4 linked regions of the Homo sapiens genome follow. The protein of the gene in region 1 interacts with the protein of each later gene in a biochemical or structural test. Each region holds a gene or a part of one and is shown in the gene's direction. Other genes may lie near its edges.

Region 1 (6,998 bases):
TATCCACCTAGTCCTGCCCTTGACACTTGGGGATTATTACAATTCAAGGTGACATTTGGTTGGGGACACAGACCCAAACCATATCATATATATATATACGTATATATATATATTCATATATATATACATATATATTCATATATATACATATATATGAATATATATATTCATATATATATTCATATATATGAATATATATATGAATATATATATATATAGCAATGTCATATTTTAAAATGTGCATGGAATCATAGAATGCCAATTTTCAAGTGTTCTCAGCTTTATAGTGAATAAAAGTAGTCACTTCCAGGCAGGCCCAGAAGCCTCAAGATATTAGATATTGCAGGCAAAGTCTGATGTCTGCCTTGGTTTGACTTCCTAACATCAAGAGGTTTTTAAAAGTCCAGATTTGTTGTCACAATTTCCAGCAAAATAAATTTAAAAGAAGCCTATGTGGTTATTCTTGCCGCACTTATGTAAATAATCAGGTCAAGTTTGAAACTAAATTAATTTTAAAAATAAATTGGTCTTACCATGATTATCTTTGGTAGAAATGGGAATGACTGTAGAGAGAAAAATTATGTTTCTGAAGAAAACCATAGTACACCTGTTACTAGATTGCAGCTTTGTTCATTGTTTTTGAGTTTTTATCATCTATCTATAGACTAGCCTGGATCCTGAGTTCTTGTTGCCTTCAATATCTGACTGCAATTCTCCAACCATGAACAAAAACTGCTAAGCTGAACAACTCGATATAAATTTCAAGGGACAAGTCCCATGCTTGATGAGGGAGCCACATAGAGAGTTTAGCAGAACACCTGATGCCACAGCCAGAGACATTTAAACTGCAAACCAGGATGAGAAATTGCTGACATCATGTTGTGGACAGCGTTTTCCAAGACTGTCAGAATAAGACTCGCTACCATGATAAGACTCCTTCCCTTCTTAATTTTTTCTTGCTTATGCCCACCTCTTCCACTTGGCAGGATAATGCTGTAGTTAAAATTTCACAATTAGTAGTTTTTGTGGGTAAGTTGATAAAGGGTCAAACCCAAACATTTACAGGACCCAAGAGAGCTTTTATTCCACCTAGTGGGTAACTTTAGCAACATCCCTAATGCAACTGTTTGTTCAAATTTTACTAGTGGCCTCTTTTGTAGAGTTAGCACTCTTTGCTTTAATTTAACCCATTTCTGAGATGCTAGATGATAGAATTGCTGCGTACTAACCAAACGGGGAAATCTGTGCTGTTGCTGTCACTTCTTGTTGTACATAAATAATCTGGTATTGTAGAGACTCAGTTTCAAAAAGTTAGCAGGCTACTTGGTGAAAACAGGTAGATTTCTCATCTGGCTCATTCTTTGATCTATTTGATTTTAGTTGGTTTGGTTTATGGCAACCCTAGCTAAGAAGCATACTCCGAACTCTTGGCATTGTCCTCCTGATAGTCACAATTCTCAATTATGTTCTCTCAAAAAGTTTTACATATTTGCATACAGCCAATTGTTGAATGTCATATGGTCTCTCTTCAGCTGCAATGACAGAAATACAAAATCATGAGGACACTGTAATCTATAAATGATGTGTTGAGACTGGAAACACAGAATGATGTTAAATGAGGGTAGTGCTAATGCCCTCAGTCTTAGTCACAATTTCACCTAGGTTGTTAAATAAAAATCATGGGATGCCATTGTTTTCAACCAAATTCCTGCATCAGGCCTCCAGATCAGACTAAAAATCAAAATGGTGTCACCCATGTTCACCAAAACAAAACTGAGTTATCTGGTTTTCCAAAAAATGGTAAGAGAGATAGCCAATTTTCCAAACAGAAGTTTCAATCTTTAACAGGCATGATAATGAAATTTCCTGTTTTAATCCTTAAAATAGAATACCTGAAGTAACCCAATGTTAACCAATCAGTTTTCTTTCTACTGTTCTGTCTCCACGTCTCCACCTTAAAGAAAAGTGACTTTGATATAACCAATCTGCTTTTTGTTGTTTCTGCCTTCTTCAGTCTATTTTCTGTCTCTAAAGTTAACATCCTCTGCTTGATTCATTGCAACATTTATTCTATTTTGTGGAATGAAGTTTTGTCCAATTCTAGGAGTGCAATAATGCCAATGAGATCTTGAATCTCAATTTGTTTTACTTTTGTTTCTTGACAATGGAGAGGTTTAGGCTAGAGAGCATTTTCAAAGTCATGAGCATATAGACTTCAAGTCAACCAGTTAGATGAGATCACCTGGTGATAAAATAGAGAAGAATGCAAGGACCGAGCCCTGGAGCAGTCCAACATTTAAAGATTGAGCCAAAGAGGAGAAACCAGCATATCAAAAAGGAGGCCCAGTGAGGGAACAGGACTATCTGTGACGTGTAGGTAAGTTCAGGGGGAAAAGTGTTTCAAATCAAAGGAACCATGTCAATTATTCGCGATTCTACAGAGAGGTCAATTGAGATATGGATAGAGAATTGGCAATTGCCTTTGGAAACAAGATCATTAGTAATCTTGATAAGTGATACAGATGATGGAAGCCAAAGCTCGATCAGGGTAGACTGAGAAGTGAATGTGAAGTGAGAGGTAGGAACAAGCACTATTGGAGAGATCTTGAAAAACCTTTCTAAGAATTTATGAAGATAGCAGAAAAATAGGGCAGTTCCTAGAGGCGATTTTGGAGTCAAAGGAAGTTTATTTTAGATGGGAGAAATTTCAATATATTTATATGCTGATAGGAGCAATTCAATTGAGAGGGAAAAAACTAACGATGCTGGAGGGTAGGTAATTGTAAGAGTAAAATCCTTAGGAATGTGCGTGAAAAAAATCCGGTCACTGGTAAAGGGACTGGCCTTCCTAGGCGCAGGGACACTTCATTCATAGCAACCCAAATGTTACTATGCAGATAAGGGTGGTTTTGATGGTGAGAAGATAAGGGAGTTTATTTCTGATATCTTTCATTTTTTCCATGAGTTATGAGGCAAAGTTGATTAGTAAAAGTGGGGGTTGGGGAGGAGGTATATAGAAGGCTTTCAGTAGAGACGAAAAGGAATGAAATAATCCTTCCATCAAGTCTACTTAAATGTCAATTTAGTGGATAAAACCCTCCCAGAATTAAGTACATCTCCCAAACCCTTTCTCTCTCTCAATGACCTTTTGCTCCTTTCTGGTACTCACTAACATTTGCAATTGTATCTTTGTTCGTTCACTTCTCTGATTCCCCATTAGAGAACTACAGAAGGGCACGGACTTTGATTTCAAAATGTATATTTAGCCGTTAGCACAAGGCAAGCAGATGGTCACTAAATAAATACTTTTTTAAACAAAAATGTTAATGAACACCTTCAAAATTTTGTCTTACGCCACCTCGTTAAAATACTTGTTTGTGCAAGTCACTTTTCCTCTCTGAGCTTTCATTTCTGAATCTATACCATGGGAATTATCTCTTCCTTGCCTACCTCCCCTCGTTATCAAGAGGATCTGAGCCAATAATGATAGAAATGCTTCATTAAGGGCCCCTTAAATGTAATGGATTTCTATTTTTAGCCCACTGGTAGCCTCGCAGGTAGCAGGTGCTGAAAAAGCCTTGCTTATTGGGGGTTGGGGGACAGCATTGTTTCTGTGACCGTAGGCGTCGAAGCTATGCAGAAGCGTTCCGCGGACCGCAGAGAGATGGGGCTCAGGCCAGCATCCCTCTCGCTCCGGCCCTTCCCGGGAGGAGCTGGCCGAGCTAGGATGGGGGGCAGGGAGACCGAGGGGGCAGTAACTGTCAAACCTCGCCGCTTGGCGCCATTATTTAAATGGAACGTGCCTGTCTCGCAGCTGTACGTGCCCGGGGCGGGGCTTCGAGCGCCCTGAGCGGGGCGGAGGCTAGAGGCGGGCTGGGAAGGTGGAGGGGCGGGCCGGGGCGGGGCCAGGCCGGCTAGAGGGGCGGGTCTAGCGGCGGCCCCCGGCGAAGTTCACTGCGCTTGCGCTGACAGACGCAAGATGGCGGACAGTGCGGAACTAAAGGTAAAGCGCAGCTCGAATTCACTTCTAATATTCGGCCGCGGAGACGGCGCCGCTGCTGCCAGGGGGGATGGGTCCGACCCTGGGGGGCCTCTCGGGCCTGACTCCACCCGGGCCTGGAGTTGTAGGGAGAGAGGCGCGCCCGGTCTCAGCAGAGGGGGCCCGCCTGCGGCGGGCCGCGGGCCCCGGGTGCCTCGGGGGCGCTGACGGGTCGTCCCCGGCGTGTTATTGTTGTGGGCGCCTCTGGCGGGGGTGGCGGGGGAAGAGATAGGGAGTCCGGAGGTAGGGGCTGCAGCTGTCTCATGGGCTCGGCTTTTTCACCTTCCAGTTAGCCTCCCTGCCCCCCATGGGGAGCTGGGGCTGGGGGCAGGGTGCTCTCGTAGGGGGGATTGGGAAAGCTCCCCGTGGCCGCTTCCTCTTCCTCCTTTGCAGTCCCGGGCTCCTGTCAGGCGCTCTTCTCAGACCCCCGGGAACTTGGCTTCGGCCGCCCCGCCCCTCCGTGGATCCCAGTAGCCCCCGCCCCGGACTCGGCTTTCCCCGGCTGCTCGCTTGTCAGGAAGCGCCTGGGGTGCCCCGCTTGTGGGAAGCGCGATCCCGGGGCGATAGGGTGGGGATCTGGGGGAGAAGCTCTGGTAAAGTTTAGCGAGCCCCGGGCCGGCGTTGGGGTTCGGCTGAGAGGTAGTGAGCGGGACGTTACTCTTTCTCTCTGATTCCGGGCAGCCGAGGGGAGAAACCCCCTCGAAGAGTGTGTCTTTGGAAGCAGTGTTGGGAGGGGGGGATGCAGCTACCTCTCTCCCTTCTTTTGCCTTAGCTGGTGTGGAGGGTGAGAGGAGCCTTTGGGGGTCTCTGCACACACCATGATGGCGATGCTGTAGCTGATGGAGGTGAATGGTTCGTGTTTATATCCCCCCATTGCCTTTTGTTTGTAGGGACATCTTGCTGGCCATGTTGATTTGAACGAAATTCTCCCCTCATGCTACTCCAACCCCCGATAAATAGAACGTTCCTCTTAACAGTACCAATTACTCACGCCTCACGAAATTAGATGAAAGGGTGCCCCCTTTTCCCCGCTTTTCTCCCACCCCAATCTTTACCTGATGATGGCTTCTTTACCGTAGCAGATATACCACTACACAAGCAGTTGGGGGAGGGGGTGGTGGAACCCTTATGACTGGATTGTGACAAATGGGGCTCCGCTTGAATAATTTTGGTTTAGTAGCAGGCAGTTCTTAACTAACGCGTATTATTTCGAGGCTCTGAACGCGATCTTCTCTGTGGCTTCCTGTGTGTGTGAACCCAGCAGCTGGTTATGTCTCGACCCAGAGAACTGACATCTCTGTCAGAGAGGAGATGGGGATATACAATTGTAAATCTTTGGGGAGAGTCTTCTTTTTATAATAAATAAAAATTATTTAATTTTTTCCCCGTTATAATGAAACGACAACTTCTAGAACAACCAAATGCCAGATTTGATTCTGTAGAGTTTTTCCTGTGGAATATCCTCACCGAAAGAGCTTTTCTCCTAATAACTTCACAATGTTTACACTCCAAGATTCGTATGTTAAGGTATTGGCTTTGAGTGTCATTCTTTTAAAATGTACTTCTAATTACAAATTTACTGAAGGGAGAGCAGATTTACAATGGATGGTTTTGATTTTTCCCCAGTTTCAAACTATTGACTGAAATGAGAAAGCCTTAGGAATTTGAATATTTGGAGATAATTAACCCTTGAAATAAAAAAAAGCACACAACTTTAAGACATGTTTTCTATAATTTTTCTCTTAGAGTCACTATGTTGCTGTGATCTTTGCCTTGTAATATTTATTTTGTTAGGAGTTCTTTTGAATGATAGCTAATCAGTTGTTATACATGGACCATAGAATAAAGCTGAAAAGCATGTGCAGACTATATTGTCACTCTTGATGCTGTCCAAAGAAACTAGTATGGAAAGCACATGCTGAGAGATTTCCTTCTTTGTTCTTTCTCATTTTAAGAAAGTGCCTTTGGGGATAGATCAGATCCCTGGTGTGAGTCTTGTTAGGTAAAGTTTCTCTTTACGAAAATGAACCAGTATCAGATAAACACCAAACACTTGAAGAAATGTTATTTTTCTAAAATTAATCTCGTTTTTTGTGCTCTCCCAAATCTACTAGAGTTTTTCCAGAGGAAGTTTTTTTTTTCTACTCTTATGTTCCTGTTGTATAATTTTTCAAATTATAATAACTGTTTTGACATGTTGGTATGTCATTGTGTGTGTCTGAGACTTTGAGGAGCTGTGTGATAAATTGCTTAGCTGGTGATAGCGGCGTTAAAAAAATTTGGTTAATACTTTATTGTGGTTAGATTTGCTGTTCTTTTTTTGAGGGGTGGAGGAGGTGATCTCAGGAACGCCTACCATAGTTATTTGAGAATGTGTTAAAAAAAAGAGAATGTGTATATATAATTTTCTGTGCAGTAAGGTTTGGCAGATACTCCTTTTGGAAATGATATTTTCTGAAGGCTTTTTGTTTGTGATTTTTTGGAGGTAAATATCATACATTCCTAATATGATAGGAAAAATCAGAGTAAGAAGAAAAAAATCTAGATTTTTTGAAATTTTAAATGGGAATAGAGTACTTCAACTGTGAAGCTTTACATAAAACTCAGTGACTTTTCATTATTTTAGGTTTCAGCCCCATACTTCATTTTGCTGTGGATTGTATTCATAATTATTTTCCTCATGGCTTTTTTAGTGAGTCCTTTTAAATCTATAAGAAATGTGCAAAGATCAGATGGGAAAAACAGATAGATCTTTATCCCCTGTAGGAATTGTGCAAGCTGCAACACTTCAAGATATTGCCAATAAAAATTAGATTGTGAGTCATACATATCAAAATGAATTCTCTATGCACATTTGTTTATGAAAGGTTTAATTTTTCATTAGGGGAGTACCCATAAATGTCATTTTTAAGAATGTGGAGGGTATTTTGTCATCTTTAGGAACTTAGAAGCAGGAGGG
Region 2 (7,542 bases), on another chromosome or scaffold:
ACAACTGTAGGGTCCCTTTTCCTCTTCCAAGGGGACTGCTCCTCCCTGCACTGGGTCTTCTGCTGCTGTTCCTGCTCATCCTCCATAGAAGCCTTTCACCTTCATTTTTAAGCCAACTGGTCCTCCCTAATCTTATTCTTGGCGACCTTCCCTTTATTTCCACCTTGAGTCCTCCCCTCTTCCAGAATGGCTTCTCCTCCCACTGAAAGGTGAGAGAAGCAAACATTTGACCCACAGTCTTGCTCTCTCATTTGTGTGGAAGCTACTCTTCCGGTTCTCCAAATAAAGACAAGAGATGAGTTTCAGAGTGGACACCTTTCCTATTGCTCTTTTTCTCCCTTGTTAACAGTTCAGGTTTTGCCTTCTGTTAGTTTAATTTTAGGATTATTCCTTTTTTCCCACCAGCTGTAAGGTTAGGAAGTGTCTTCTGAGTTCTGAAATAATCTTCCTTCTCCTGTTCTTTCCCACAGACTTCTCAGAAATTAAAATTCTTCTGTCTGAATATTCACTATGATAAAAATATAATTAGAAGGGAAAGCAAATTTTGGAAACCCCAAACCTTGGTTTCCCCACAAGTCATCTGGAAATGATTAGTATTGCTATTATCATTTATTAAGTTGGTAGATGCTGAACTAAAGGAATAGTTTAAAAAATAATTTTAAAATCATATATAAATGATTAGATGAGAATACAACTGTCTTTCTGAAGGGAGGGCTAAAAAAGATATTAATACTTAGATGTAATGATACAGGTGGTTCTATAAATACTCTGAGACCTTGGACATCCTGTGGGTTTTATAAAGTCCTCTGGAGAACACTTACATCTTCATTCCTAGGGTGGGAAGGGAGCTCTACTTGTGTTCTTGAATTTACTTAATTTTTGTTTCCCTTATGTAGGAAGTCAAAACACTGACCTCATTCCAAAACATCCAACAGCCCCTGAAGGTCACCGTCCCAATGTTTAGGCCCTGAATATGTTTGTCAAAAGTTTTTGGGAGGTGAGCTGTGTCATGAGAAGGAAGCTTGTGCTATTTTTAAATTGATTCAACTCATCATCGAAACATATCGTACACATATCACACCAATGACACACACAGGCTGCATTGTAACATAGCATGTGTCATACATATATTCTCTCTCACTCATACACACATACTCGCTCTTCTTGTCCGGCTTTTAAAAAGGAAGGCAGCCAGAAGGCCAAGCCCAGTGATTTGAGTTGAAAAGGCTGTTAAAGTTTAAAAACCAAGTGTCCCTCTAGTTCTCAGCCTGGCTTTGAGACATGTGGGAGGGCTTCAAAGCCTCAGTGCCCCTCTCTCAGGCTCAGGCTTACAGTTGGTCCCCAAATGTTTACCAGCATGAAGATGCCTAACTTACAGGAAGCGGGAAATGGGTGTGGGGGGTGAGGGTGGGTGGGTGGTAGGGAGTAGGAAGAAGAGGGTGGGGGGGTTATTCTCTTGATGTGGTTAGCCTGTCATTGACCTTGTTTGGGTATGGCAGGAGTTGAATGAGAAAATGAAAACATGTTTCATCTTGGGTACATTTCATCCCTTTTTTTTACCTTAGGAAAAAAAAGTTCCTTTCGAAAAAAAAAATTTTTTTTCCCCAAGTGGAGTTCAGGTCTCCAGATTTGGTGCTCAATTTCCCTTCATTCTACAATAGTCCTTTCCCTATAGAGTCATCTGGCCACCAACATTGCAATTCCCAATCCACCCAGGAACTGGGAGAGGAAAAAAACTGGCCCAGTAGCTGAAACCGAATTAAAATTGGCTGATGGAACTGTTGTGATGATGCCATCCACGGGAATAGATGAGAATTTCTGAGAACAGAACTATTTGGCTCATTCATGATTTGCTGCCATTGTGAACACTTTTAATGTGAGAGCTCTGCCTGAGAAATGCTGATTAATAAAGATAACTGAGGTTCTTTTCGGTGTTCTAACTTGGGGGGAAATAATATAGTGACTAAAAATGCACCAAGTTATTACTTAGAAACAAACCCTTTGAGACATAAGATTCCAGACAGTGGCAGCCTCTGATAGCTCTCTCTGCACAGCTGTACTGCTGCCAGGGTCTCCCAGCTTTAGTCAGCAGTAAAAAGGTGCACTGCTCAGGCCCTCTGGGAGGACCGAGTGAAGTTCAGAGGTCAGTCCCTTTTATTCCCCCTTAATGGTTTTGTGCTGGACAATACCTAAATATTACAATATGGACATGTTTTTTCCTATTATGGAGCAAGCTTCCTTTCTTTTATTTCTTCTTCCTTTTTGGTAGCTTTCATTTTAAATGATGATATCCATCATTGACTACTATAATCATAGTCAAAAGTTGGTTTGGAGGTTTTTTTTTTCCCAATCACTTTGAGACAAGAAGCAAACATGTGAAGGACTTTACATTCCAACACTCTGTGTCTGAAAATTTACTTTCCTTAAAGTTCTACCCGTGGCCTTGTCCAGCTCAGCTGGGACACCTGGAACTAATTTTAGGGTTGCCTGGCTAAGCCCCACACTGGTATTTGAAGTTTGCGTCCTCCCTAGACTCAAGCCCATTTCACCACCTCTGAAGGTGAGTGCAGGCTGATATTAATTAACAGTGAGTTGATTCACTGGCATCTTCCAGTCATTAAAGCAAATATTTGGCTTAAAATAGCCTTCTTCCCACCTCAAATATCAAACTTTTTGCCTATTCCCTTACTCTATCATGGTTGACTCACCAGCAGTTGCATGATGGTGTATGTGGCCTAAGAACAGAGTTTGATTCTAAAAGGGAAGTGAAATACTCTTTAACATCTGCAAGTGAGACTGTTTGAACAGCAGGCCAGCCTTCAGTATGACTACATTGTTTTTCTGTCCATTGTGGTGCTGACTCAGCATCAGTTAATAAACCCTCTTGAGCAGGCTGGATTTCTCTTGTTTAATTATCAGCTTGGAGCTTTCTGAGGACTCTTAGGAATTGTTCATTCAGTTTTCCACCCCCAGCAGATCTGCCTTCTAAAAGTCCTGCTTCCTCTTGGTGCTAGCGTCCCCTCTGGCATAACATGCAATCACAGGTGGGCCACGCAGCAAGCAGCGAGTGTGTGCTAATCATGTCCCCTAGTGGGAATTTAATTGTTCTGTACTGAGAGAGAGATTGCAGCAAGACTTTAGACACCATTTCCTGGCAAATAATCTTTTGCCTCTCCCCCTCTCCCCTAAAAAAAATTCTAGAAAAGTTTTCTAAAAGTGAGAAAAGAAATTTTAAAGATAAACAGACATATTTTTTAGGATTGAGTTGGGCTTTTGTTTTGCTTTGTTTCATTTCTTCCTGTAAACAAATACTCAGATGTCCATTTCATTGTATGACTAAGTTGGTATCATTAGGTTGGAACTGGGTGTGTGTATGTGGGTGTGTGTGTGGGTGGATGTGTGTGCACACGTGTATTTAAAATGTTAGAAAAGACATTGCAGGTCGAAGGAGAAATGATTTTAAAAAAACCTACCTATGGTAAGGCAAGCAGGAAAAATGGAAGACCTGGATTTCAATGATCTAAATAATAATTGAAATGGGGTGTTTGCTATAAACATTGTTTCTCTGAATTAAAGGATTCCTTGCTGAAGGCACAAGACCATTGAAGGAAGTAAAGCATCTGGTTTGTTTTGTAATGAGAAGCAGGAATGCAAGGTCCACGCTCTTAATAATAAACAAACAGGACATTGTATGCCATCATCACAGGATGTCCTTCCTTCAACAGAGGACTGACTGGGCTGGAGGAAAAGCTGGCCGGGGCTCAGAATAAGCCCCACTAATTACTGCCTCCGACCGCTTTCCACTTGCAGTGATCAGTTCAATATTCCTCTGAACTGTGAAACGACTAATGCTCTACATTTTACTTACACTCCTGGGAAGTCAGCCTGTGGGTTCTGGGAGGAGAGGAAAGGAAAACAAACAATCTGTAGAATTATAACTTTTGCCTATTTCCCTATTTACTAAATAGTTAAAAGAGGAAAGTTAGTTCTGCCAAGTTTGAACGTTAGCAGGAGAAACGGAATGTTACAACTTTTGGGGCGGGGGGCGGGGAAACGTGCGTTACATACACAACAGCTTGAGGACCAGACAGCTCCACTGTATTACACTAGCTGCAAAAACAATTTAACTTGCTCTTTTGAAGTAAGATTTGTGTCTTTTGTACCTGGGGATTTGAGCTGAGAAATCAGAAACTGTGTAGGTAAATTTTAAGTTTCCTTAATTTAAGGAACGTGCGCCCCCTAATTCTGCCGCGCCAGGAAGGAGGGCGATCTGGAGTGTTTAGAATACAATAGAGCCCAAGTAAGCGTTGAGGTTAAGTGCCTTCAAAGGGAAGTAAGAAGATTCCAAGTCAATGTTGAAATACACATGCGAAGAGAGGAAGCTCTCGGCGGCTGTGCTAGCAATCTGGGGGAAAGCCCTGGGCTCGGCCAGGTGGTGTTGGCCACGTTGGCCACGCCCCCACTTCGCGCAGCCGAGTGGCTAAGGAAATCTTAAGCAGGGAGGGGAAGCCAGACGGTTAACACAGACAAAGTGCTGCCGTGACACTCGGCCCTCCAGTGTTGCGGAGAGGCAAGAGCAGCGACCGCGGCACCTGTCCGCCCGGAGCTGGGACGCGGGCGCCCGGGCGGCCGGACGAAGCGAGGAGGGACCGCCGAGGTGCGCGTCTGTGCGGCTCAGCCTGGCGGGGGACGCGGGGAGAATGTGGACTGGGTAGAGATGAACGAGACTTTTCTCAGATGTTGGATATTTGCTTGGAAAAACGTGTGGGTACGACCTTGGTAAGGAACTTGAATTTTTTTTTTTTAATTCTGAAATTGATCTGAAAACTTTATTTTCTTTTCCTTTATTGTTATTATTATTAATTTTTTTTGGCTAATGTCGCAGTAGAAACATGCTTCTGCTTTAGTGCACTTAGTGCTGTCAAACATTTGTGAGACTTTCCTTATGAATCATTAACCCTTTCAGTTCTAGACATAATTGCCAATTCATTGAAATTTCAGTAGTGGTTCCAGCTCACACTCGTCAAACTATTCCGGGTTGGCTGAAGTTTTCTATTTTATTTTATTTTTAACATGTGTTTGGCGTCATGACTCTACATGTTGGAACTAAATAAAAATAAGCAGGTTTGCTTAAATCATAACTGAGGGAAAAACAACTTTGCATCCAACTTTTTTTTTTTTAAGAGCATCCTATTTAGAGAAGTGGAAGAATGTAAAAACCTCCTTGAAGGACTTCCACAGAATGTTATGTTTACATTTGAACAAACACACATTCTTACATGGAAATGATACCCATATTCCTCATTTTTATCAAACATGTCTATATGAGAAAACCCTTACAGAAGTTGTTTACCTTTTTTTGCCTTTGGAAAACAGTTTTTTTCTGAGTGTGAGGGAGGATTTTGGGGGAATATCCTCATCAATGTACAAGTGGAAGCAGAGCTTGTCCTCCAAGTCTTCTAAATTTGTTATAACTTTAGTTACAGTAAACTGTAGTACATCAGTGACTTCTGGGAATTCATACACTTTCAGATTTAAATGGAAAGTGCTATTTGTAGCTGAGGACTCCTAAAGGAATTCTCTCCAGGGAATTTTATTAAACGGTTTTATGTTTTGTTTTTGCCTTTTCAATTTGGTATGAGATGCTTGCAAGTCAGAAGACACTGCAGGCTGTTTTCCCCTTCACCCATTTTTCCTCCTCTTTTCCTGTGGTCCAAGTGATTTCTAAGAGGCCGTAGCTCAGTGATGCTGGCAGGATGCAACCCTTTTCAGTCTTCCATGTGAGAGGATGAAAGAGAGCTCGCAGCAGAGGGAGGAGGCAGTTGTTTTGAAAGTTGTTTTGCGTTGGGAGCTGGTGGGAAAGTTCGGTCTTCCCCATTTGGAAAAGGCAGGCTGGGTTCCGCTCCTGCACCACACGCGCTTTCCATTTTTAGCTTCATTCAGAGGCAGACAGAGCTCCTTCCTCTTCCTCTCCTTGTTTGTGACACTTTTCTGAGGCAGCTTTTCCACAGTGCCGAGGGTCTGGCGGCCATGACCCCAGGCATTCTGGGACACTGGACTGTGTGCCCAGAACATTTTTCTGCCATGAGAGGTAAAGCCAGGGATTGTTCAGAGGTGATTCTTTTTTTTTTTTTCCTTTTCCCCACAGTGAGGTTGCCACATTCTTTTTTTTTTTTTTTTTTTTAACTAAGAGTAGCATTTAAAAACCTTGCTTCTTTTCAAGGCAGTTTACTTTATACGGCTTCTTGGCTCTTTCTCAACTGTACCAAGCACTCTGCATCTGCTTTTAAAGTCTTCAGACTACTGTATTAGTCATAGCCTCTCAGAAGGAGCCACAGGAACGGCGGGACAATGGGGATTAAAGGCCTTTCCTTTCTCTTCCAGGCTGCCCCCAAGTGTAACTCCAGCACTGTGAGGTTTCAGGGATTGGCAGAGGGGACCAAGGGGACCATGAAAATGGACATGGAGGATGCGGATATGACTCTGTGGACAGAGGCTGAGTTTGAAGAGAAGTGTACATACATTGTGAACGACCACCCCTGGGATTCTGGTGCTGATGGCGGTACTTCGGTTCAGGCGGAGGCATCCTTACCAAGGAATCTGCTTTTCAAGTATGCCACCAACAGTGAAGAGGTAAGCCTCTGGTTTATTGACAAGAAGATTGGGGACCTGGTGCCAAATCTCCCTACTTGCCCTTGAGGCCTTGTATATCTCTGAAAACCTCTGAGAATCTGTAAGTATCAGTAAATAATTGATTGCTCTATTCAATTCTTGCATTGCTTTCTCTTTCCCTAAACCATTTCCTTCTCATTTCTTCCAGCCTTCAACTGTTCCTCACTAATTAGTAAACAGTTAAATATTTTGGCAAATTGGCATGTCTTAGAAAAGCAACTTGCAGCATAGGGTGGGTGAAATTGTCAGTGAACTTCAAGAAAGCTCTGGGCCCACTGGCCCTAGTGTCCCTGTTGTACAATATCTCTTAAGGGAGAAAACTTTTTCTTGGAAAAAAAAGTTTTAATATTTCTTTTGTCTGTCTTTGGTAATTAGTTGGCTTTACTCTTTTTAACAAGCCAGCTTTATTAGCTGGGTTTCTAAAACTATCCTCAAAACTTTGACGTGTTTATGAAGTGAAGTGATGGTATAAGCCGAGAAAGGGGGTCATGTAAAAGTGTCCTCTGTCTGGATGACTTCAGAGCTAACCACTGTTTATCTGCAGCAGCTCCTTTGCTGGGGCTGGGCTGGCAGGCCAATTCCTTACTGGCCTCTGAAGTGGGTACACTCTTTGTTGTTTCAAAGGGGATGAAAACCCAAACTTGGAATGAGCAACTGATTTGTGTTTACCTTTAATATAAAGATTATAGCTAGGCGTGATGTTTAGCTGTGAAATAACTTGCAGAACCACCTCTTGTTTTCAGAATTTGGCTTACTGTAGTTGCACTTACTAGTCTACTACTGGGTTGAGTTGAATGAAAGGACCCCTCAGCAGACTTCCCATACCACCATTAGCACAGAGCACTGTCAATTCTATTACTTCCTTCAGAA
Region 3 (7,280 bases), on another chromosome or scaffold:
CACTCAGAGCATTTTTATAATTTATCTTTGGAAAAGATTTCAGAGCCCCTGTACAAACCACTTCAATAAAACATCTTGTTTCGTTTCTTCTGAGTTTGCTGAGTGCCTCCTCAACAGCATACTCCAGGTAGTGTGCTACATGTGGGGACTCAAGGACTAATTAGACATAGTCTTTCCCCTCTGTGCCATGACTTATTTGGGGAACAAAAAACTAAGATGTAATGTAATAGGTCTATAAAGGTAAGTATGTACAACATGATCTGGGAACGGAAAGAAAGGAATGATTCTATTTAGGACATTAAGAAAATGCCTTCTTTTGCAAAGAATTCAGCTGAATGCCACACTAGGGGGAAAATTTTTAGCATAAAGGCTTTGAAAGACTACTACAGTATTTTAAAACAAAGGGCTGGCAAGAAATTACATATTCTGAATAGGTCATTCTGGCGGCCATTAGAGCAGGTAAGAAACTGAAGGCAAGACCAGTTGCCAGGCTACGGAAATAATTGGGGTTAGAGATGTTAAGGGCCTTGATTAGGTCAATGGCAATGGGAATCCAGAGAGAGAACAGATTCAAGAGAAGTCTGATTAAAAATACAAAGCTTGATCATCATCTACTTTATTCTTCAGTCTTGGCTGTGTATAGCATTGTGCAATTTTAAAAAATCATTCTCTAAAGATAAAGATTTATCACATCACTGGGGTTATTCTAAAGAATTAGTTGCAAAGATTCAAAAGTGTTTCAGTACGTTCAATTTTTATAAAAACAAAGGAAGAAACACTGTGGGGTGTGTGTGTGTGTAGATAGATACAAGAGATTCTGTAAAGATACACAGCAAGGTCTTAGTGACTATCGAAACTTAGTTTAAATGATTCTGCTAATCTGTATTTTCTGTTTTTCTGTAATGACAAAGCATCTTTTTTTTTTTAAACAAAGAAAAGGTTTTTTTGTTTTGTTTTGTTTCGTTGTGAGATGTGTCACCCAGGCTGGAGTGCAGTGGCACGATTTCAGCTCACTGCAACCTCTGCCTCCCGAGTTGAAGCAATTCTCCTGCCTCAGCCTCCCGAGTAGCTGGGATTACAGGTGCCCACCACCACACCTGGCTAAATTTATTTATTTATTTATTTATTTATTTATTTATTTATTTATTTATTTATTTTTGGTATTTTTAGTAGGGACAGGGTTTCACCATGTTGGCCAGGCTGGTTTCAAACTCCTGACCTCAAGTGAGCCACCTGCCTTGGCCTCCCAAAGTCTTAGGATTACAGGCATGAGCCACCACACCCAGCCAAGTTATTTTTTAAATAGTAATTTTAAAAATCCACAACCATTATACCTAAGAAAGAGTTCTAAAAATCTTTTTAACAAGGTCAACATGGCTAAAATAATTTCCCCAAGTTTACTTTAGGACAACATTCAGTTGAAATATTAAAATAAGTTGCACTATTTCATAGCTATACCTTCTAAAATTAAGGTATTAGTGGTATAAACCATTCTAAAATGACCTGTGCACCTATTTTGCTATTGTTCACTACATTAGTATTACTATACATAATTAAAATAGAAGTTATCTATAATTTCGACCTTCCATTACCTTGTAATTTTGTCTTTCTTTTTCTTCCAGGGAAATAATGAGTTCTCTAACCCTCACTCCCACCCTGCCAAACCCTATTCCCCATAGGTATAATTAATGAGCTCAGGTCTTCCATCTGGACTTAGAAACATGAAATGCTTCTTCTGCCTCGCTCCTAGTTTTTCCAAAGCGAATGAGTTTATACTTGGATACCCTCACTGTTGCACGTCTGACACTTGGCATAGCTAAAAAGCATCTTCTCCACACCTCTGTACAGAATGGCCAGAGCTCTCTGTATGTCCTGCTTTACAACACTCTCTTCTCCCACCTGGGTCTCCAGAAGCACACTGATGGCAGTTGGGAATGTGTCTCTCAAGCACACCACGAGTTCCCCCAGAGCTATAATTCTACAGCTTTCCAGCAGGCCCCATTCCCATTCTCCAGCCCCCTCCTGGACTATGTATGAGGGAGGGATGAGGTGGTGGATTGAGGACATTTATTTAATAAGAAGTCAAAGGAAACATGAACAAATTATCATTTTTTACATGGAACTCACAAGCTAATTAATCAGAGAATTTGTTAAGAAATGGGTTATCTACTCTGGTGCAGTAGCAGAAATTAACATTTTTGACTTGCCTTGTTTTGCCAATATTTAAGCAGTTTGTTCTATTGAATGTGACTACATGTACAGACACACTTTTATTTAGTCTCACACATGAAAAAAGAAAGCAGAAGGCCTGTTATCCAAGTGGTTTCTCATCCAAACATTTTTATAGCAAATTACTAAATCTAGTTGAAAACAATAGGAAAGAGGATACTTTTCCCTCTAGTATTTGTTCTATCAACCTAGACTTAGCACAGAATATCTGAAATTGCAGCTAAAATAAAGGCTTCATTTTATAAAATAACATTTGAGTTGTTCCTGTATCCATGATCAGCATACAGACCTGCTAAAAGCAGAAAATAATGTTATGTTCCTCTCTATGGGATGAGTATTTCAGTAGTTTTAAGGAAAGAAAATCCTGAAAAAGAATTTAGAAAAATATTAATAGAAAGGAGGAGGATGCTTCAAAGTAATGCCGACATACATCATTTTCCCTCCAAGGCTATTAGCACTGAAATACTTTTTGCTGACTATATGGCACTTATTCTATACCTTTTGTTAATTAACAAGTAAATAGGTGGCAACAGCAACTATATTAAAGTAGAAAGCCTTTCTATAAATGAAAGTCAGAATTCAAAATTTAGAAGGCAACATTGTTTGCTTCAGATCTACTTGTTACAAATTGTGGGTTTGAAAACATGCAACCTTATCTCATGATGCACCATAACTAGTATTTAGTTATACTAATAACTCCAAATTATGTAAACAATAGATACCCCGAAATCATATTTGGGTTTGTTTCAGAGATATTTTTGGTTCTTATATTTGGACTTAGGTACTCTTGATCTAAAAATTCACTCAACCTCCAATAAAATAATGAAGGCACAGATAAAAAATCTGATAGAGCTGAATATCGAAATTCCTTGCTTTTAACAGGCGATACAGCGCATTCTTACTCTCTTTTCTCCTAGATCAGCAGGTGTCCCCGCCGCTCCAGTAGACTGAGAAAAAGGAAAAGGAGGGGGCGACAAGAAAGGAAAGGAAATTGTCTAGGTGTCCTGGTGGTGGAGGTGGGGGGTATTTTAATTTCATAATTAAAAGCTCTCTTCTTCGGCTTTCAAGTTTTTACTCCTATTTGTAATGATTTGATTGAGGACTGTGCAGCAGAGTTTGGGTATGTACATCTCTAACATAAACGGAAAGGAACAAGGAAGGGACGGATAGGAGACAGCAAAGGGTTGCGGGGAGAGAGCAAAACGTAGGCGCGTGGGGACGGGAAGGGAGAGGCGGATTTGGCAGTCAAAGAGGGACGAGAGGAACAGGAATGGAAAGTGTGGACTGGCCGTCCAATCCTATGGGGGAAGGGGAAAGGGGGGGCCCACCACGTCGCACTCCTCCCCACCTCCAGGCTTTTCCTGTGTAGGCTGAAGCCATCCAGGCGTGTACAAAAGAGTCGGTTGCTGAGCCAGGAAGGCTGTCTCCCCGGGCTGCGCAAGCTCCGGGCCGCCTCTCCTGGGCTCAGGAGGGCGGGCAAGGATAAGAAGGCAGAAGCCCCAAGGCGGACAGCTTTGTGGGCGCCTGGAAGAAGGCGAAAGGCCACCAGCCCAGACCCCGAGGGCGCTTGCCCGCGGGACTCGGCGCCGCAGGCCAGGGCCGTCCGTGAAGGGTAGTCTGTGCCTACGTCCTGCCCTACTGGTACCACTCGGACACTCTATCCCCGTCCGACCCTTTGCAGGGCTCGACTTGTCTCCCCGACTGCCCGTCCTTAGTCCAGGTTCTCCTGCGCGGCCCGGGTGCGGGGTCTCCTCGTCATCTCGGGCGACACTCTGCAAACAATATGGCGGTCGGGCGTCGACCGTGGCGCCTTCTCTCCGGGCCCTCGGGGTTGACGAGGGGGACTACCGCCGGCGCTCCCGACCCGCGACGCGCGAGCCCCGGGCGGGCGGGGGAGGCGAGAGCAAGAAACCTGTGGGACCTGTGGGGAGCCGCGTCCGCGGGGCTGGCGCGCGCGGGGGCGGCCTCGGGCTCGCGCGCAAAGGCGCGGGCGCGGGCGGGGGCGGAGTGGCGGCGGCAGCGGCGGCTAGAAGCGGCAGCCCAGAGCCCTCTCGCGGCCGCGGCGGCAGCAGCAGCGCCAGCCCCAGCAACACTGAGGCCGCCGCCGCCGCCTGGCGCTCCCGCCGCCCGGCCCGACATGAGTGAGGCGGTTCGGGTACCCTCGCCCGCCACTCCGCTGGTGGTGGCGGCGCCCGCGCCTGAGGAGAGGAAAGGGAAGGAGTCAGAGCGCGAGAAGCTGCCGCCCATCGTATCGGCGGGCGCCGGCGCGACCGCGGTAGGTGGTGGGCCGGGGCCGTCTGGCGCCCCGGACGGCGGGAGTTGGGAGGGACGGCGGCCGGGCGAGGGCCGTCAGGAGGCCTGCGTTTACCCTGGGCACGCCCTGGCACTCCAGGGAGACGCACTCAGGCCGCCCTTCCTTGGGCAGAAATAAAAGAGTTGTGCCTCGTGGACAGCCCCGAACACTTCGCGAGGTACACCTACCACCCTCGGGAAATGTTGGGGGTGGTCGGTTCCGCTGGATGTTTGGGTTATTTTCTGGGGCTTGGGCCCCCACTTTCTCTAAGAGAATGACCTGCATCTTGAGTCGGCATGATCTGTTGGATGAGCATAGGTGTCAGCAGGCGGGAGTGGGTTTTCCACGGAGGTGCCTGCCTGCCTGCCTGCCTTGGAGGCGCGCAGATTTTTGTCCTTTTCTTCGCTTTTCTTTCCCTTCCCCCTTCAGATTAAACAGGCTCTGCGGCGAGTTTCCACTTAATTGTGACCTTTCCGTTGCTGTCAGTGTAGTGGGAGGTAGATGCATCAGTGATGGTTTTATTTTTCATATGGTACAGACATGTGACTCAGGTGGGGGGAGGCTTTTTGAACCTTTTATTTAAACCCAAGTTATCTAAGCTTGACAGGGATGATTTCCCAGCTGTATCTTCGTAAGGGTTATTTGGAGAGCGCTGTCAGGCTTCAAACTACATATTGCCAGATGATGTCATGGGACAGCCCCCTCCCCCTCTTTCCCTATTTTTACTGGTGGTTGTGACTGGTTAATTTGAAGCACAATTTAAAAAAAAACCTCGGATTTTGCAATTTTTTATTTTGACATAATATTTAAGTACTTTTTGAAAGTTTGCTTTGATATATTTAAAGATCATGACTTGTCATGCAGCTGTGTGTGACAAAATAGTAAAAGTTTAGTGAACATTATACATTTTCTTTATTCCTACTTGCGGTTCATTTCTTAAAACCTCCCTCTTAAATGACTAAGAACTTACTAAAATAGCTCACTCTTCGTTAAGTACTGTATTGGTGTTAGGAATAATTTTCGGATTCGGTAGGTTTTTCAAAAATGTCTGAGGGCCCTGATAACTGGAAATTGTTAAAACAAGCTCTTTAAATCAATGCAGCAAATTGCGAACAGTAATGATACACGTTTAAAAGCGTAGCTACAATTGATTGGTAGATTGGAGCTGGGGTTAGGGATTACCCTAGAAAATGCTTTGAAGGAATTTGTCACCCAGCTGCTTGGAGACCTGGTTCCTGCTGCTGGTACCCTAGGTTTTCAGATTTTATATAGGAAGTCTTTAACTCACAGAATTCCAGCAGTTCATTTCTAAGTTGGTTGTTTAAAACAGTAAATGTATGTACTTATAGAAACAGTTAAATGAGTGGGTTTAGGTCCTCAAGCAAACGCTCTCCCAAAAACCTATTCATCTCATAACTGAAAAATTGCCGTTTTGGAATTTGCAAGTGTGGATACAAGTCTACAGTCTGCTTTGGGATTTCAAGTTTTTCAGATTTTAGAAAGGTAATTCGGTACATATATCATATATTATTTAATACCCACAGTAAGGTCCTAGCCAGTTCTCTCTAATCAACCATCTTAATAACTGTAATGAAATTATGTGTTCATGCTAAAGGGAAAAAGTCAGTAGCGTCATGTCATTTCAGATTAGGTGCATGTTTTTGCCACCAAATGAGTTGCAAAGACACTTCAGTTTCAAGAATTTATAGGACTTTGAAATTGTAAATAGAGGATTATGGACTTGTACTACTAGACAAAGAGAAGAATATATTCAAGAAAAAAATTTAAATCTTGAATTAAACTTTGAAAAGGTATGAGTTGGAATAGAAGAGGATAAGGATAAATATACAAAACTTGAGGGTTTTTTTTTTTTCTTTTTGAGACGGAGTCTTGCTCTGTCGCCAGGCTGAAGTGCAGTAGCCTGATCTCGGCTCACTGCAATCTCTGCCTCTCGTGTTCAAGCCATTCTCCTGCCTCAGCCTTGCTTGTGCCTTATAAAGTCTTTCAGAGTCAGTACCATTGATTATTTATTTTTTAAAAAAAAAAACAATTTATGACAGGATCTGTGGCAGAATGTGTGTGTGTGTGTGTGTGTGTGTGTATTTGTCAAAGAGAGACTTCAAAGCTAGAATTCAGAGCTAATAGCAGTGAAAAGCTTAAGTGTAGAAAATCTATGCTTGGTCCTTAGTCCATCCAAAGGATAAGAAATCCAGGAGAACTGGGGTGGTGATTGACTTTTACAGCAGCTAGGAAGGCCTTGGTATGTGTGGGGAGGGGGAGGAGGTCTTGATGTGTGAGGTAGGTGGGCAGGGAAATACAGCTTGTGGCCTCTTGAGTTGTTTTTCAGCCTCCTGTAGATTAAATAGAGCTCCTAGAGGTTTGCTTAGGAACCTAATTGTCATCAATAACTTTTTCTTTGAGACATTCCAGTGATTGTTCCTTTTTGCCCCAGCCTAATGGTTCTGCCTGTCTAGTTTGTGTCTATGACTCAATTCGTGACCCTACAATAGTGGCTTTTTCAGAAAATCATTGTACCACATTTATAAATGAATATATATGAATAAAATAATATAAATATTATCAATAAGTAGAAGGTCAGTTTACAGTGACCCTAAATAAGGTTGAAGAGTTAGGCTGTATCCTTTATGTTTACAGAAAGGTACAGGGGTGGGAGAAAGAATGCTGGAAAGGGCAGCCCTGAAGTGTTTTATCCTAAGACCATCTAAACGTGAAGGAAGTCCATTCCAGCTAGTGAGGA
Region 4 (4,727 bases), on another chromosome or scaffold:
GTGATCTTGAAATAAAAGTATAAACCCTTATGGTTTTCTTATGGTTGGTACGGTTGTCATATTTTTTAAAAACACTGAAGCAAATTTCCTTTTTTATTTCCTTAGATCCGTATCAGATCCTGGGCCCGACCAGCAGTCGCCTAGCCAACCCTGGTGAGTTTACCTTGGCCTGCAAGCCTTTTTTGCCAGAATGTTTCGTAGCTTTGTGAAATCACAGAGACTTCTGTCCTAAGTCCAGACACCTGAGTGGGGAGTAACATGCACGTCTTTCCTTGAAATGTTCAATGTCTGTTTCTGGAGCATGTGAACAACAGGTCAGGGCTTGTTATGAGGTGTCAAGGTTGGTTAGCTGAGGATACTTCTAGGAATAAACACATCAGCACTGCACATGTGCACTTAGGTGTAGATGAGTAATAAGTGGCACAGGTAGGTAGGCGTTTCAATCAGAGAAAATGGGCAAGAAAGAAAAGAAGACAACTCCACTCAGCTCTCAGTTGTCTCCCGCATGCCAGGCACAAGTTCATAAATATTCCAAAGGGTTTTATTTGTGATTTTAGAAAGTGTTGCCAAGTTATCTGGCCTTATAAAAGAGATGTGTCCTGGAAAAGTTGCAGATATAGTCAATTTGACCTTGTACTTTAAAGATTTAGTATCAAAAATAACTCTCAAGAGGGTCCTTCTAAACCAAGTCCATCGAGATTGGGAGCTAGCAGGCCCTTGTCGCAGTGTGGCCCACTCACCTTCCCATCCCAGGGACTCTGCCTACCCATTCCTTAGTGCCTGGTCATTACTGCCAGAGGAGAAAGCAGCCACCCAGCATATTCTGGGTATTTTTCTCTCTGCACAAGTTCTCTGTAGAACTTAGAGCTGCAAGCCAAGCTCTGGGCCTGCCAAGGGCCAATCCAGGTCCTGTCCATCCAAAAGCTAAAGCTCATGGCGCAGCTTCTCCCAATGACTCCCACAGTCATGCCTTGCCCCTGACTTTTTATTGCTGACAGGGAATTCCCTGGGGGACATGACCACTAATTAGAGATCAGTCAGTGATTCAGGCCTTTCTAGATGAAGAGATTCAAAAGCCTTGCCAAAGGGATTGAGGGGGGATATGGCTCACCCAAGATCACACAGCTAGTTCTGGGCAGAGTTTGCACCTCACTTCCCACATTCCATTTACCAGGCCTTGGGGCAAAGCATCTTAGGATCTAACCTCGCTTATTATACCCATCTCCAAGGCAAGCAGAAAGGCAAATCAACAATGACATAAGAAGGGCTTGTCAAGTCGATCCCAATGTCGAAGGAAACAAAAGGTTTCTTTAAAAGGATGAGAAGCTCCCTGCATTTAGGGAACTGGGTTCTGCCTTCTCTGGGCTGAGGTGTTCTGTTCTCTCCCGTTTGCCTCACGGCGTGCAGGAAGCGGGCAGATCCAGCTGTGGCAATTCCTCCTGGAGCTGCTCTCCGACAGCGCCAACGCCAGCTGTATCACCTGGGAGGGGACCAACGGGGAGTTCAAAATGACGGACCCCGATGAGGTGGCCAGGCGCTGGGGCGAGCGGAAAAGCAAGCCCAACATGAATTACGACAAGCTGAGCCGGGCCCTCCGTTATTACTATGATAAAAACATTATGACCAAAGTGCACGGCAAAAGATATGCTTACAAATTTGACTTCCACGGCATTGCCCAGGCTCTGCAGCCACATCCGACCGAGTCGTCCATGTACAAGTACCCTTCTGACATCTCCTACATGCCTTCCTACCATGCCCACCAGCAGAAGGTGAACTTTGTCCCTCCCCATCCATCCTCCATGCCTGTCACTTCCTCCAGCTTCTTTGGAGCCGCATCACAATACTGGACCTCCCCCACGGGGGGAATCTACCCCAACCCCAACGTCCCCCGCCATCCTAACACCCACGTGCCTTCACACTTAGGCAGCTACTACTAGAAGCTTACTCATCAGTGGCCTTCTAGCTGAAGCCCATCCTGCACACTTACTGGATGCTTTGGACTCAACAGGACATATGTGGCCTTGAAGGGAAGACAAAACTGGATGTTCTTTCTTGTTGGATAGAACCTTTGTATTTGTTCTTTAAAAACATTTTTTTTAATGTTGGTAACTTTTGCTTCCTCTACCTGAACAAAGAGATGAATAATTCCATGGGCCAGTATGCCAGTTTGAATTCTCAGTCTCCTAGCATCTTGTGAGTTGCATATTAAGATTACTGGAATGGTTAAGTCATGGTTCTGAGAAAGAAGCTGTACGTTTTCTTTATGTTTTTATGACCAAAGCAGTTTCTTGTCAATACACGGGGTTCAGTATGACACAGAATCATGGACTTAACCCGTCATGTTCTGGTTTGAGATTTAGTGACAAATAGAGGTGGGAAGCTTATAATCTAATTTTAGGAGGACCAAATTCAGTGGATGGCAACTGGAACATTGATTGTAAGGCCAGTGAAGTTTTCACCCAACTGGAATTTGATGGAAAGAAGGTTTGTGTGTTTAAGACGCCAAGGGCATTGCAGAATCCCTCTCAGTGGACAGTATGCACTCAGCTGACCACTCTCTCTAGAAATAGTCAAGATATGAACTAAGAAATTTTAATGCAAATACATACATTCCTGAAAGACGGGGAATTAAATTACTAATTTTTTTTTTTTTTTAAATGATGACAGTGGTCCCAGAACTTGGAAAAGTTGTAGGGATTTCTAAACTCAAGCAGATTCGCAAGTGCTGTGCGCTTGTCAGACCATCAGACCAGGGCCAACCAATCAGAAGGCAACTTACTGTATAAATTATGCAGAGTTATTTTCCTATATCTCACAGTATTAAAAATAAATAATTAAAAATTAAGAATAAATAAACGAGTTGACCTCGGTCACAAAAGCAGTTTTACTATCGAATCAATCGCTGTTATTTTTTTTAATGTAATTTGTACATCTTTTTTCAATCTGTACATTTGGGCTGTCTGTATGTTTTTATAGCTGGTTTTTAAAAAGCATAATATGCCTATAGCTGAAAAGGAAACAGGGCTGTTTAAGTCACTGACTTATGAGAAAGCAAAGCACTGGTACAGTTATTTAACAGGCATACACAAGCAGGGAAAAGATAATCCATTTAGATCTTTAATGCTTTGGAAATGCGTGTAACAGTACTGCAATAATCACAGCTCTGGGAAAAACAACGAAACTTTCCCTTGTGGAGAGGAGGGATTTTCCTGCTCTATATAAGCAACATATTTTTAGACATTAAAATATATATAATTTTGCAGGTAATTGTTGACTTTTTTAACTATATTAAGTGTTAAGCTGACAACTGTCAAAGAAGACCATGTTGTAAAATAATTTGACTAAATAAATGGTTCCTTCTCTCAGTGCTGAGGACAGTTTTCTTATTTACCGCCCCCGTTAGGTCAAAGGGTTTTCCCTGGGGAACTTTCCTATTTACTTCTTGCACTATCAAGAATTTTTCGAATGTACCTACTGCAGTACAGCAGAAGGTAAAAAATCAGTGTGGTTTTTCATTGTTGTTGATGATGTTTGTAGTGTTTTTGTGTGTGTTATTTAAATCTTCCTCCAGCCTAAAAGGGTTTTATAAAACAGCAGCTAAGGCCATGGATAAACCTGTATGTAAGGACTGGAGCAAAGCGAGCTGGTCTATCCAGACTGGTCTGTGAGATTTAACTCTGCAGCCTCCCCTGGGCACTTCAGACCCAGACGGCCACCTTCTGCCACTCCAGCAAAGAATAAGCGCCCTGCTTCCTTCAGGTCTCAGACCAGGACTTTATGGCTCATGCAGATTTTTAAGGTCATTTTTCTTCCCAAGGAAGAAACTTGCCTCCAGTTCCTTCACTGTTAGGTAGCTTATTTTCATTTTCTCTATTTTACAATGAAAAGAGTGAGACCTGGGAAGTCCTTGATTTGCAAGGAATTAGACTCACAGCATTGGTAACCCTAGAACCTTCTTAGGGTAACACTAAGTACCTTCTAGACAACATGTCTACCTAAATGAAATGGGATGTGTTTCGGAACATTTGTCTCCAGTTTTTTTTTAATCTTGCACCCTGCCATTTAAAAAGATGTGTAAAGCACATATTCTCAACATATGCACATTGATTTATAAATCATATATACAAACTGTTACATTATTCTTCATATTAGAAAACAAATACAAAATAGAACATTTTAAATGGTGATATAAAAATAAATTGAAACTGAAATTCTACTCTTTTCCTCCTATTTTCTCTATATTGAATATCCTCTGCTATTAACTCTCAAAACAAAGATGTTGGTCTTTAGTGAAAAAAGTGTATGCATGTACTGGATTTCTAGTGACTTCCAAGAAAGGAGAAAATTAAAACTTGGTATTAGTGGCCCAAGCATAGAAAGAGGAATGATGAAGGCCAGGTATGTTTAAGAACAAACTAGCTGAATTCTTTGGCAGATCTCCATCTTAGCCACGCAATTTCCCCATCAATTTTGAAATCTGCAAAGTATTCATTAGGGAAAATGGAGGCATATATTTCTGAGTGCTGTAAGAAGATGCTCAGCCCATTAGTTCATTCTTTTAAAGGTTTTCTTTATGTGTCCTACTCAAACACTGGCTCAGGCTCATCTTCTCTACACAGTCATAGAGCTTTAGCCAAATCTCGCCCCCTGAATATGTTCCACAGTGATTTGTCCTATGCCTCAGAAGCTGGCCCACTGGCTGACAGGACTGGGGCACCATTTTCTCC

The links.
Region 2: of the proteins of PIAS1 (region 1) and PRDM1, one has a biochemical effect on the other in vitro, tested with the Homo sapiens proteins (one study listed by BioGRID).
Region 3: of the proteins of PIAS1 (region 1) and HECTD2, one has a biochemical effect on the other in vitro, tested with the Homo sapiens proteins (one study listed by BioGRID).
Region 4: of the proteins of PIAS1 (region 1) and FLI1, one has a biochemical effect on the other in vitro, tested with the Homo sapiens proteins (one study listed by BioGRID).

Annotation. Positions count from the first base shown.
Region 1 is NC_000015.10:68,050,348-68,057,345, forward strand, and holds the start of PIAS1 (E3 SUMO-protein ligase PIAS1), read left to right. Parts: upstream 1-3,967; 5' UTR 3,968-3,979; coding exon 3,980-4,003; exon of another isoform or gene 4,004-4,878; coding exon of another isoform or gene 4,879-4,884; exon of another isoform or gene 4,885-4,888; coding exon of another isoform or gene 4,889-4,891; exon of another isoform or gene 4,892-5,536; coding exon of another isoform or gene 5,537-5,566; intron 5,567-6,998. UniProt on the Homo sapiens protein: Functions as an E3-type small ubiquitin-like modifier (SUMO) ligase, stabilizing the interaction between UBE2I and the substrate, and as a SUMO-tethering factor. Catalyzes sumoylation of various proteins, such as CEBPB, MRE11, MTA1, PTK2 and PML.
Region 2 is NC_000006.12:106,081,817-106,089,358, forward strand, and holds the start of PRDM1 (PR domain zinc finger protein 1), read left to right. Parts: upstream 1-4,519; 5' UTR 4,520-4,737; coding exon 4,738-4,779; intron 4,780-5,937; exon of another isoform or gene 5,938-6,030; coding exon of another isoform or gene 6,031-6,114; intron 6,115-6,384; coding exon 6,385-6,633; intron 6,634-7,542. UniProt on the Homo sapiens protein: Transcription factor that mediates a transcriptional program in various innate and adaptive immune tissue-resident lymphocyte T cell types such as tissue-resident memory T (Trm), natural killer (trNK) and natural killer T (NKT) cells and negatively regulates gene expression of proteins that promote the egress of tissue-resident T-cell populations from non-lymphoid organs.
Region 3 is NC_000010.11:91,406,073-91,413,352, forward strand, and holds the start of HECTD2 (probable E3 ubiquitin-protein ligase HECTD2), read left to right. Parts: upstream 1-4,271; 5' UTR 4,272-4,366; coding exon 4,367-4,504; intron 4,505-4,556; exon of another isoform or gene 4,557-4,700; intron 4,701-7,280.
Region 4 is NC_000011.10:128,809,052-128,813,778, forward strand, and holds the end of FLI1 (Friend leukemia integration 1 transcription factor), read left to right. Parts: intron 1-105; coding exon 106-153; intron 154-1,407; coding exon 1,408-1,937; 3' UTR 1,938-4,216; downstream 4,217-4,727. UniProt on the Homo sapiens protein: Sequence-specific transcriptional activator. Recognizes the DNA sequence 5'-C[CA]GGAAGT-3'.